Linked DNA regions of Homo sapiens: region 2 is linked to region 1. The links come from fine-mapping of genetic effects on gene expression. A gene starts in region 1. The other region holds a variant in brackets. All regions are shown on one strand. Distances are from middle to middle. Region 1 holds the start of GRIA3 (glutamate ionotropic receptor AMPA type subunit 3). Region 2 overlaps GRIA3 (glutamate ionotropic receptor AMPA type subunit 3).

What was found. PIP is the estimated chance that this variant, and not a neighbour inherited with it, causes the effect.
Region 2: its variant is the best candidate, but not a certain one, in a credible set for the expression of GRIA3 in fibroblasts (GTEx, PIP 0.54).

Annotation. Positions count from the first base shown.
Region 1 is chrX:123,180,789-123,186,316 of GRCh38, forward strand. GRIA3 (glutamate ionotropic receptor AMPA type subunit 3) reads left to right here and starts at 3,490. Exons shown (of 16, transcript NM_007325.5): 1 at 3,490-3,856; 2 at 5,044-5,202. The coding sequence starts at 3,748.
Region 2 is chrX:123,421,714-123,426,713 of GRCh38, forward strand. The region is part of intron 11 of GRIA3 (glutamate ionotropic receptor AMPA type subunit 3); the gene reads left to right. Among named protein-coding and RNA genes, the nearest start is that of GRIA3, 240 kb to the left of the region's middle. RefSeq lists an enhancer at 2,871-3,020. The variant G/C (reference allele first, on the strand shown) is at 2,864.

The DNA.
Region 1 (5,528 bases):
AAATGTTGAAGAAATCAAAGTATCAAGTCAAATGGTTAGAAAATTATGCTCCCATTAGGCAAAGGATATAGTATCTTGGTTTCATTTTCTTCGAAGGGTATAGCAGTTTCCTTCCAATGAAATAGGATGATTTCTGTTGTTGTTTTCCTGATTTTTATGAAGTTGGCAAGTATGAGGCTCACTGTACGGTATAGATCACCTCTTAGAATTCCACTGGCCAACAGTTCTTTATGCTTATCCAAGTGCACCTCTCAAGCCTGAAACAAGCACAAAGCTCATGAAGAGAAGTACACTTTTTACTTTTTGATAAAAACTGCAATGGTTATTTTCTTGCTATTTAAACTATATCATAGAGCTCATTTAAAAGTACAGATCATAGGTACTAAGGCTAGCAGGTAATCCTAAATTCAGCAGGGATACTCTTAACCACAGAGGGAGAGCTAGGTTTGGGGCTTTGTTGGCAACTTCTGGTGGCTATGATGCTGCTAGTATAATCTCTAACCCCTCGTTGGAAAATCAAAGTTGAAGTTTATAAAGTGTCTCCCTGCTCTTTTGGGTGAGGAATCGATTGCTAAAGAATTTGCATGTATTATACAGGCTTTTCAACCAACAGCAATATGCTTAGTCTACCACTGTGCCCCTGCTGGCTCAGATGAGAGTAGTCCAACTCTGCCAACAGCTGCCACTGACAGCTAAAAATTGAAAGAGTGGCAGCAGATAAAAGAGAGGGGAAAAAGGTATTGGGCAGGGGAGGATGACAATGGAAGGGATGGGTGGCATTTACATTCATGACTTCGAGGGTTTTCAAGTGCATAGGCACCAAAATACTTTTCTGCCTCTCATCTTTAGTTACTGAGCCACCCTCATCACTCTTCAAGCCAAATGACAGTGAAGATGGCCACAGATCTTTTCTTCCACCTCCTCTTACAGCTGGCCAAGCATGGCTGGGGACGTGGCTACTTTCAGGAGTGAAGTGAGACATGCTGAAAGTCACTTTCTCCTCGTACAAAATATATTGTTCACTCACATGAAATCAAAACTAAAACCTCCTCATTAAAGTTGTTCCTTTGGGACAAGGCATTGAAGGCTCCTATTAAAATGCAACTGTGTTATCTAAAAAGGAGAAACACCTAGTGCCTGGCACAGAGTAAAGGTTCTTTAAATGTGACATTTTAATATTAAATTGTCATTGCCTGCCATTAGAATCTTAGTAAAGATTGTCTCCCGGGCCTTTTGAGGAGCCACAATGGAAAGATTTTAATGTGGAACATTGGCATAGACTTGATAGCAGAGTCTGAAGTTATGTGGAATATGAGGAGAGAGGAGGATGACAGCATGAGGAAACTTGGGGGACAAGAGGGCACTTTTACTAGGTGAGAAAGAGGGAAGGGAGTTTGGAAATTAACATTTATTGATTTTTCTCTGAGGCAGGCACTGAATTAGATGCTTTCATATCAATTATCTTACTTAATTTTCACAACTGCCTTATAAAGAAAGATATTAATATTCCCATTTTGAAGATGAGAGAACTGGGGTTCAGATTAACAAAGTTGTTCAAGGTCACACACTGCCTGTATGTGATGGGACTTAGACTCGAACCTGGACGTGTATGCCTCCTAAGCCCATGTTCCCGAATAATGCTATGTCCCTGTCTACATTTGGCAGGGGATGACCAACCTTACCTCTGCTACCCGCTTTGCCCTAATGCTTCTTCCACTGAAAAGATGAGTCTCCTCAGACTCTCATGTTTCTCCTTCACTCCTGTCCATGAAATATCAAAATGGAGACAAAAGATTTCTATGAGTGGTGGGTGGGAGGAAATTATGCATTATCAGAATGAATAGAAATTTGGGAAGAGCCTAGGACAATTTTTCTGGTTTGAAGCCATTTTGTTCCATTGTTCCAGGCTCCAGACTACGTCTCGCCAAATCCAAAGTTCTGTAGCAACTGATATACTAGCTGGGCTCCAGGGTCCTTCTATCCCCTGTATATTCCCAATTTTATCCCCGATGTATATCAGTTCGCTTTACACTGGCAGGAGAGTTCATGTTCCACTTAGACCAGGAGGAGAGGATATGAAAAGGAAAATAGCAGGTGTGGGGAGGATAAAACCCATGCCTTCTACAGTAACTGTAAAGTAAAAGTGAAAAACGTGAGAGATAAAGAGGATTCTTTTTCCTCATTGCGGGAGAAAGGGGCTAGGGAGAGGAGTCTATAGCCCAGGAGGTTCATCCGCAGCATGCTATGGAGAAGGCCACCGTCACTGAAATCCGGTCTGTACTGTAGGACTTCATAGGTTCTTTGCTCGCCTTAGAGCAGAGGGGAAGAAGAGTCAGAAAGAATTGATAACCTCTGAGGTCATCAGTCAGGGGCCTAGGCTGCTAAGTCCAGAGGCAACACCAAGGGATCAATGCAGCTAGGTACAGTTTTCTCCAGCCTCAACTTTCAATCCCCACCCCCAGACCAGCTCATTCCCACACCTCCCTCCTCCTTGGTCAGTGAGCCTGAGCGTCCTTTTCATTAACCTTTTAGTTACTACCTCTACGCACATACTTTTTCCTATGCCCTCCAAAGAAGTCAGCCCCATACTGCCCATCACTGCTCAGCACCGCCCACCCCATGCCCCCGCAAGCCGGCCTCAGCACTAGTTTAAGGGGAGGGACACGCCTCCCAAAGCTGCGGGGATGGGGGTGGGGGTTGCTCACTCGCCCTCGGATCTCTGCTGTAAAAGCGGAGCGGCAGAGACCGGGCATGCGCAGCATCTTCGGGCGCATTGTGATGGGAACTGCTTCTCTGAGTCTCTACAAAGACTCCGGAGTAACCACTAATGGCCCTCCTAAGGCCCCCCTTCTTTAAGACAGACACACAAACACAGAGGCAATGCAGCTATTTTTTTTTAAAGGGTGGGAGGACGTTGCAGCTTGAAAGGTTGATCCACGTTAGGAGTGGTGTATTTCTATTGATCCCATCTCCGGTGTTGACAAACGCCAGCGCCTAGGCTTTGCAGTCCGGGGCTGCAGTTTGCAGTAGAGCTAAGCGGTGTGCGGCTTTAATTCCACGTCAGATCAACTTTGATCAATATCCCCCTACTGGCCCAATTGGAAGAGCCCAATTCACCGGCACTGAGCCTTTTCGCTCTTTCCTTTTTTTCCCCCCCTCTTTAGACCTACCATCTTTTGCGGGGGGGGGGGGGCGCGGAGAGAGTCTCAGATTGTCTTGATAATTTATTCTTTCGTTCTCTTTCTTTTGCTTCTCTATTTTTGTTTTTCAGTGTTTTGCTTGTTTTGTTCTGTTTTAGGATTTTATTCTCTCTCTCTCTCTCTCTCTCTCTCTCTCTCTCTCTCTCTATCATAGGGACAGAAATCGCTTTGGCAAACCCAGCTTGCAGCCAATGAACCCGCCTTCCAGATTGGTGTGAAGACAGAAGTGAGGTGGGGGGAAGGGAGGGGGTGTGAGAGATCCTGGGAGCGAGAGGGAGAGAGAGGGAGCAAGAAAGGAAGAGAGAGCGAGCGAGAGAGAGCGAGCGAATAAGAGAGAGAGTAAGAGGGAGAGAGAAGAAGAGGAAGAAGAGGAGGCGGCGGCAGCGGAGGAGGAGGAGGACTAGTGTGGGGTGGAAAGGAAGAGTGAGCGAGAGCAAGTTAAGGGGAGGGGGTGTAAGAGCCAGCGAATTCTTTTTCTTTTTCTATTATTATTTTGACGACTCCTGAGTTGCGCCCATGCTCTTGTCAGCTTCGTTTTAGGCGTAGCATGGCCAGGCAGAAGAAAATGGGGCAAAGCGTGCTCCGGGCGGTCTTCTTTTTAGTCCTGGGGCTTTTGGGTCATTCTCACGGAGGATTCCCCAACACCATCAGCATAGGTAAGCGCAAGCGAGCCAGCCGTCGGTCCAGGCTCTCCCTCACCCGAGACCACTGCCCCGGCAAGGCTTTCCCTGCGGTGGGTCCCTGTCCTGCGTGGCCTGGGAACTGGGACTGGGGCCGGGACCGGGCAGAGATGGTGCGGGGCGGGGGGCGGGGCGGGGGGAATCTGAGCCTCAACGAGGTGGCTGGTCTGAAGAGCCTCTGGGACAAGAGAGGGGTCTCCTGGGGCTAGTGGGGGTGAACTGCTAGGTTTTCCGAGCCGAGAGGAGCACCGGAGGCGAGCAGGAGGCTGGGATGCTGCAAGGGGGTGAAGAGTCGAGGCTTTTCGGCTCGCTGCTCTGGACTTTGCCATGGCGTGCGTGCAGCTCCTGGAAGTTGTCCCAGGGTGATGCCGACTGTCTGGCCGCGCCAGGGCGCATAACCCGGGCCCGGGGTGCTCAGTCCGTGGTCTCCGGCTGTCGGGAGACAGGCTGGTGCTGGGGGAGGTGGAGCCCACTTTGGATCTCCCAGACCCGGGCAGCAGCAGGCGTTGGTGGTGGATGGGGTAGGAGGCGGGGGTGAGACTAGGAGCTGAGCGGGCAAGCGGCGAAGTCACGCAGACCACGAATTCATGAATTGCCGCTGTGTCTGTCTGGAGCCCGGCTCCTGGGCGCCTGGAGGGAGTTATCTTGGCTTCTGTCGTATTTACAAGTCTAGAAGTTAGAATTTTTGCCATTACTGAACCAACCCCCTGTATTGTCACGGGGGAGGGTGGCTATGGGGAACGGGTTGGGGTAGCAGGGGGAACAATATTGTTTTTCTTCCCAACCTTTCCCTTCACACAATGAAAAGATGACCAGCTGTGCGGATGGGCGGGGGGCGGAGGGGGGGGGCGACTAAAAAAAAAGAAGGCTGCCGACTAAGAAAGAACCAAGTCTCACTCTTGGTTCCATCGTCCTAACCCAAAACGGCTCCCTCGTCTCTTCTCCCTTCTCTCTAGCCTCTTCTTTTCAGTCTAGAAAAGCCAGGTTTCTCTTGGCCAAAATCTGAGTTCACAAGTCTTGAAAGACACACAGGTTGAATATCAATCCTCAATCCCACACCCCAGTATCATTGAGAGGTATCCGGTATCTATATTGTTCCCCAATTCCTAACTGGCCCTAGTGTGGGGGAACACAAGCCAAATCTCCGTTCCCTTTGCTTATAGGTGGACTTTTCATGAGAAACACAGTGCAGGAGCACAGCGCTTTCCGCTTTGCCGTGCAGTTATACAACACCAACCAGAACACCACCGAGAAGCCCTTCCATTTGAATTACCACGTAGATCACTTGGATTCCTCCAATAGTTTTTCCGTGACAAATGCTTGTAAGTAGATCTGCTTTTCCTCCCTTTGGGACGTTGGGGACCTCATTTGCATCTTTCTTGTGGCACTTAGGGTCTGTGTATGTGCTGGGAGATGATTGCTTCAGTAGATATTTTAGGGGCTCTAATCCATCCGGTTTCATGTTGCATAAATCAACTCCAAATGATACTGCTGAGGGGCTTAAGACAGTGGGAAAAACTCAAGACAGTGGGCAAAAGTCTGCTCCAAATAGTGTTTGATGCAAAAGTTTCATTTTCCTCCATGCTAACCTAGTGTGTTCCTTCTCCAACACTCTCTCTCTTTTTTTTTTAACTGGGGAAAAAAAAAG
Region 2 (5,000 bases), 240 kb after region 1:
TCCCTCAGCTCCCACTGTGTATAGGCACTTTACCTCCATTATCAGGTGGATTTTAATCCTCAAAACACCACTGCAGCGTGGGCATTATACTTATTTTTAAGTTGAAGAAGGTGATAGTCAGATTAAATAATTTGCCCAGCCACACAGCTAATGGCAGAGCCTGAGTACAAACCAAGCTCCAATTCCAAAACATGCTCTTTCCACTTCATGCTGCTTTTTCCAATATCACAGACAAGGGAACAGCACCCGAAGGATGATGTGATGAAATCCAAGGTCATGGAGGTTTTCAGAGGCAACAGTATGATTATTTCCACTACTGCACACTGCCTCCTACTACCAACCTGAAGTTGCACTGTTTGTTCCATTCCTCTCCTCATGCTCAGGCATAAGAGCTGTTTTCCATTCTTTCAACCTCTAAAGAAACTCTACCTTTTTTCTGGTTTGCAATGAAAGAAGGCAGTGAGCATTTAAAATATTATCGAGAGTGTGTATGCTCAAAGTAAGAGACTGGGAAATCAGAAACAAGACATCATGAGAAAAACTGATGGCATCATTACATTTCCACCAAATTATTCACAGCTACCTAGAAGCTTAAAGAGTCTATGTCAATATTAGGTTTGAACTACCATAATTGTTCAGAGTGAATAAGTTTGTTCTACATGAAGCTGGAGGCTGAGCTAACTCTAGAGAAGGTAATCAATATAATAACCTGAGGTTTTGTCCACATACAAACTGATTTATTAGGAGGAGTCGGTGGAAGGTACGAGGAGATTCAATTCAACCTTTTTCCCCCTGAGTGGGGAAGGAGAAGACAGGCAATGGGTACAGGCAGATGGAAGAAGCATAGTGGTTAAGCACGTGGGCACTGGAGTTAGCCTCACTAGATTCACAATCTGCTTAGCAGTTGTGTAACCTGGGGCAAATCACTAAACCTTGCTAAGCCTCAGTTCTTCATCTGTGAAATAAAAAGCACAGTGCCTAGCATGTAAGTTCTCAATAAATAATAGCTATTGTCATTATTAAATTGGCTGCACATAATCATGCTAGTTTCACAAATACTAACAGCTAATATAACATTTGCATTTTAGTTCCTAAAACTCCTTGGGAATACAGTTGAAATACCAGTTAGTATCAAAGAGCTGACCTCTGATGAGAAATAACCAGCAACACTCCTTCTTGAACTTGCTTTTGTTAAAGATTACAACTCTTGCAAATATTTTTATTGTATTATTCTACTATGTCTTACTGATATTGGCTGGAAGTTGTAACTTTATTTTTAATACGAAATTTATTTCCTTTGTAAAACTTGGATAGAACCACTAAGCAGTCCAGAGTCCAAGTCCTTCCAGACAAATGCTCCCCCTGCTGACTTTCTGTGCAGCTGCAGGGACATCTGAGGGCTAGACAAATTGAAGACATGAGAGTTGGGGGAATTATTACAGAGAAAATGGAAAGAACAGATGAACTTGAACCTGATTACTGTGTATAGATGTTTCCAAAGGTGTTACTCTCCTGTTAAGTTTTCAAGATATGAAGTACTTTGTTGAAGAGGGCAGGGGGTCTGTCCAGATTAGTTGACACGTAGATCCTCCTTTAAAATGTAAAGTATGTGCAGAATAATAAAAGACATGAAGGGTATAAAATAAATGAGATCAAAGACAATAGGATTTTTGGCTATATTTTAAGCATACCCTTTCCTCTGCTGATGTATGACCACTGTCTTTATCTTACTGCAAATTCACTTCAAAGTAGTAGTGATGTAATAATAAATTAATGAGGTAATAGCAGAATTTTTATTACAACTACTTCATGGCTTTTCTGGCTAAAAGCTGTAGTTTTCAGTCTTTGGGACATGGTTACTTATTCCCATCAGAGAAGACTGTAAGAACCAAAGATTGATTCTGCACATTTTTTAAAAATCTGCCACAGACATGGCATTAAATGGAGTATAGAAATGATGCATACTTTGGAAGAAAGAAGAGAAAAAAAGGAATGATAAAGAGTTTGTACAATAGAGAAGCAGTTTTCAGTCCCAGCTCTTCATCTTGTAAAGCTAGTAAAGTGAAGATTATAAAATTTACTTACAAGATGAAGGTTATAGCACATAGCTCACTTTTATTATCATTTCAAAGGTCATAAAATATATTTTATTATTAACTCAGAAAATCTAGTTCTTTATTATTACAGATAACAAGAGCATTGTATATTATTTGATGTACGTATTTTGCAGTGCTTTTTATATGTCTGTTTTCCTCTTGTTGCTAATTTACTTTCATTAACTTCACGCCTCCTCTTACATTTCCTCAAAAGGTATGATACGCTTCTTATAATGCACTTTTATAAACACTAAATGTGCAGCATTTTACAGCCATTTCATTACGCTAACCTTGAAATCTGTCTTGTGCAACAAAACTATTTGAAATGAATGTTAAACATTTTGTAGCTGCATTAATGGAGGGAAAGATACTGGAAAATGACAGGTCTTTTTAACTCAACTATAAAGTCTTGTCTTATTTTAATAGATCCTTTATAAAATGTGATGGGATTGACCCATCAGTCACTTTTTATATAACCTCCATGTGAAATGTGAGTTTAAGTGGCTATAGTTTCCCTAATGAGAAAAGGTAAATGTAAAAATGCCTATGGAGCTTCTTCCCTGTAGGTTCCACTGCACTTTTTCTCAGTGAAAGGATTGAGGCGCTTATGCTAAACAAGGGAATAAAGTGGTGGAAATTCCATCAAATCTTTTGTCTAAGCTACTACTGTTTTGAGGCGAGAATGTTGAATGCAAGCTTGTGCATTCCACACTGATTCCACTGAAGCTCCTTTTCTATCTCTGCTGAGGTATGCAGGTACTGTTATA[G/C]CATTTTTATGTGGGTAATCACCCAAATTCTCCATGATCATAGGTATATCATGACATTAACCACAAAATTGCCAAAGTCAATAACCATGTAGACAAGAGGCCATGAAAATGACCATTTTGCATTTAGATTTATTTTCAGTCATGTCAACAACCAACAGCTGAGTCATTCAGATCAACCACATGATGATCTGAGTCAGTACTAAAGTGGCCAAAATAACCAGATTATGATGTGCAGGCTTGATTTTAGATCAGACTGACACAGCCACAGTCCATTAGCCTCAATACAATGGCACAGTGTAATTTCCATAAATTACTGTATTTTTCTCCACATTGTCAAGTAGACAATGCATAAACTACCATTAGTATTCACAGCAGCAAAATATACCTCTTTCCATATCAAACTGTGATTCTGGAATTACTCCAAAGTCAGTTTTCTCCTTGGTCTGGCAAAACCTCATCATTCCAAATAAAAATGACAGTCACAGTTCTGTCCCAAATGAACAACAGATAATAAACAATAATTATACAAATATGTTTGGTTTTCATGCCACTATATTTCTCAGTGTTTGGAGAAAATTTGTACCTTCTATAACTTGCACACCATTTTGGATTTTCTTATACAAAATACGGGTATTTTATACTACAAAAATGTGGGTATTTCTCTCCTAGTGTATAAGTTTAAATGTTTTATTTTCTATTCTGCCTCTCTGTGCCTCAGTTTCTTTATCTGTAAAATACCTCTGTTTGCTTATCTTTAAAATAGTACCTAACCATAGGGATAGAGAATTAAAATAGTTGGCACAGGTAAAGCAATTAGAACAGAGTCTGGCACACAAGAAGTGCTCAATAAGTATTAGCTATAATTGTTATCATTTTTCTTCCTCTATTACTATGGATGTTTCTTTGGAATGTTAATCTTTTATATAGCAAAATTATTTCTAGAGTCAGATCAGTTCAGAATAAATTAAATGTATGTGGCAACAATGAAGAAAGACTCTGAAAGGTCTAAATGCATAATCAAAACACCCTGTATACTTTTAGCATTCAGAAGTGTGCCACATTCTTTTCTGACTCATCCAGATGTTTTTACTTCTGATTAAAAGAGAAATGTTCCCAGATGAAATCCTGAGATAGTGTAACTGTTAGAAAAATCTACTGCAAAGCAGATTTTCAAATTCAAAAAGCTAAAAGTGATCATGTTCAGGAAATAAATACGGGTTGTCTCAGGAATCCAGGGACGAACAGGAACTACAGATTTAAAAAAAATCAAGTCAGTTTGTTATAGTTAACCAATAATAAATATTTATCAAAATACCTGCCAAAATTATTCAGAGTGTAGCATCTAAAACAACTGAGTTTTCCAGAGGCCAGAAAAAGGTTACCTTGGGACACAGGAATTTAAATTTGCTTTAAAGTGGTGAAATGCTGGTACAGACAGAGAAGAGCTTGATTTGCCGGCTCTCAGCCCAGAACTACCCTCTTCCCACAGAGCCTGGAGATATGCCAGGCTCCTACGCCTATTCTTGACTTTATGACAGAGTGGGTTCTCTTCCTGTGAGTTTTTCTGGGCATGGGAGAACATAGCGTAACTAGGATGGAGCTCTGCCACACAGCAGAATTATCCTAAGGATGATGTGGCAATGTTTTATAAAACCTAGGGAGCAGATTTTCATTTCTGCAGACAGAGCCAGCCTTCAGCAACACTGTGAAGGAGATGAAGTTTCCTGAGTACAAGCCATTACCCATCACTGAGCATTCAATTCCCTCACACTGTCCAATAACTTCTTATGGTCCCTGTCTCTGAGGAACACTCATGATGCAGGACCAAACTTGCAACCCTGTCTGCACCTTGAGAGTTTTATAAAGTGCTGCTGCTTAGTCCCAACCCCCAGGGTTATGATTTAATTGGTCTTGAAGCCTAGGCAAGGTTTTTTGTCTTTTTGTGTTGACGTGTTTTGACTGAAGCTCCCTAGATGATATTGATATGCAGGCAGAACTGAGAATCACTGATGTAGAAGAACAATGTTTCTCAGTTTGGTCTGCAGACCACTTGCAGCAGAATCACCTGTGATGCTTAAGAAGTGCAGATTCTTGGGCATTCAGCTATTCTGAATCTGCATTTTAACAAACACCTCAG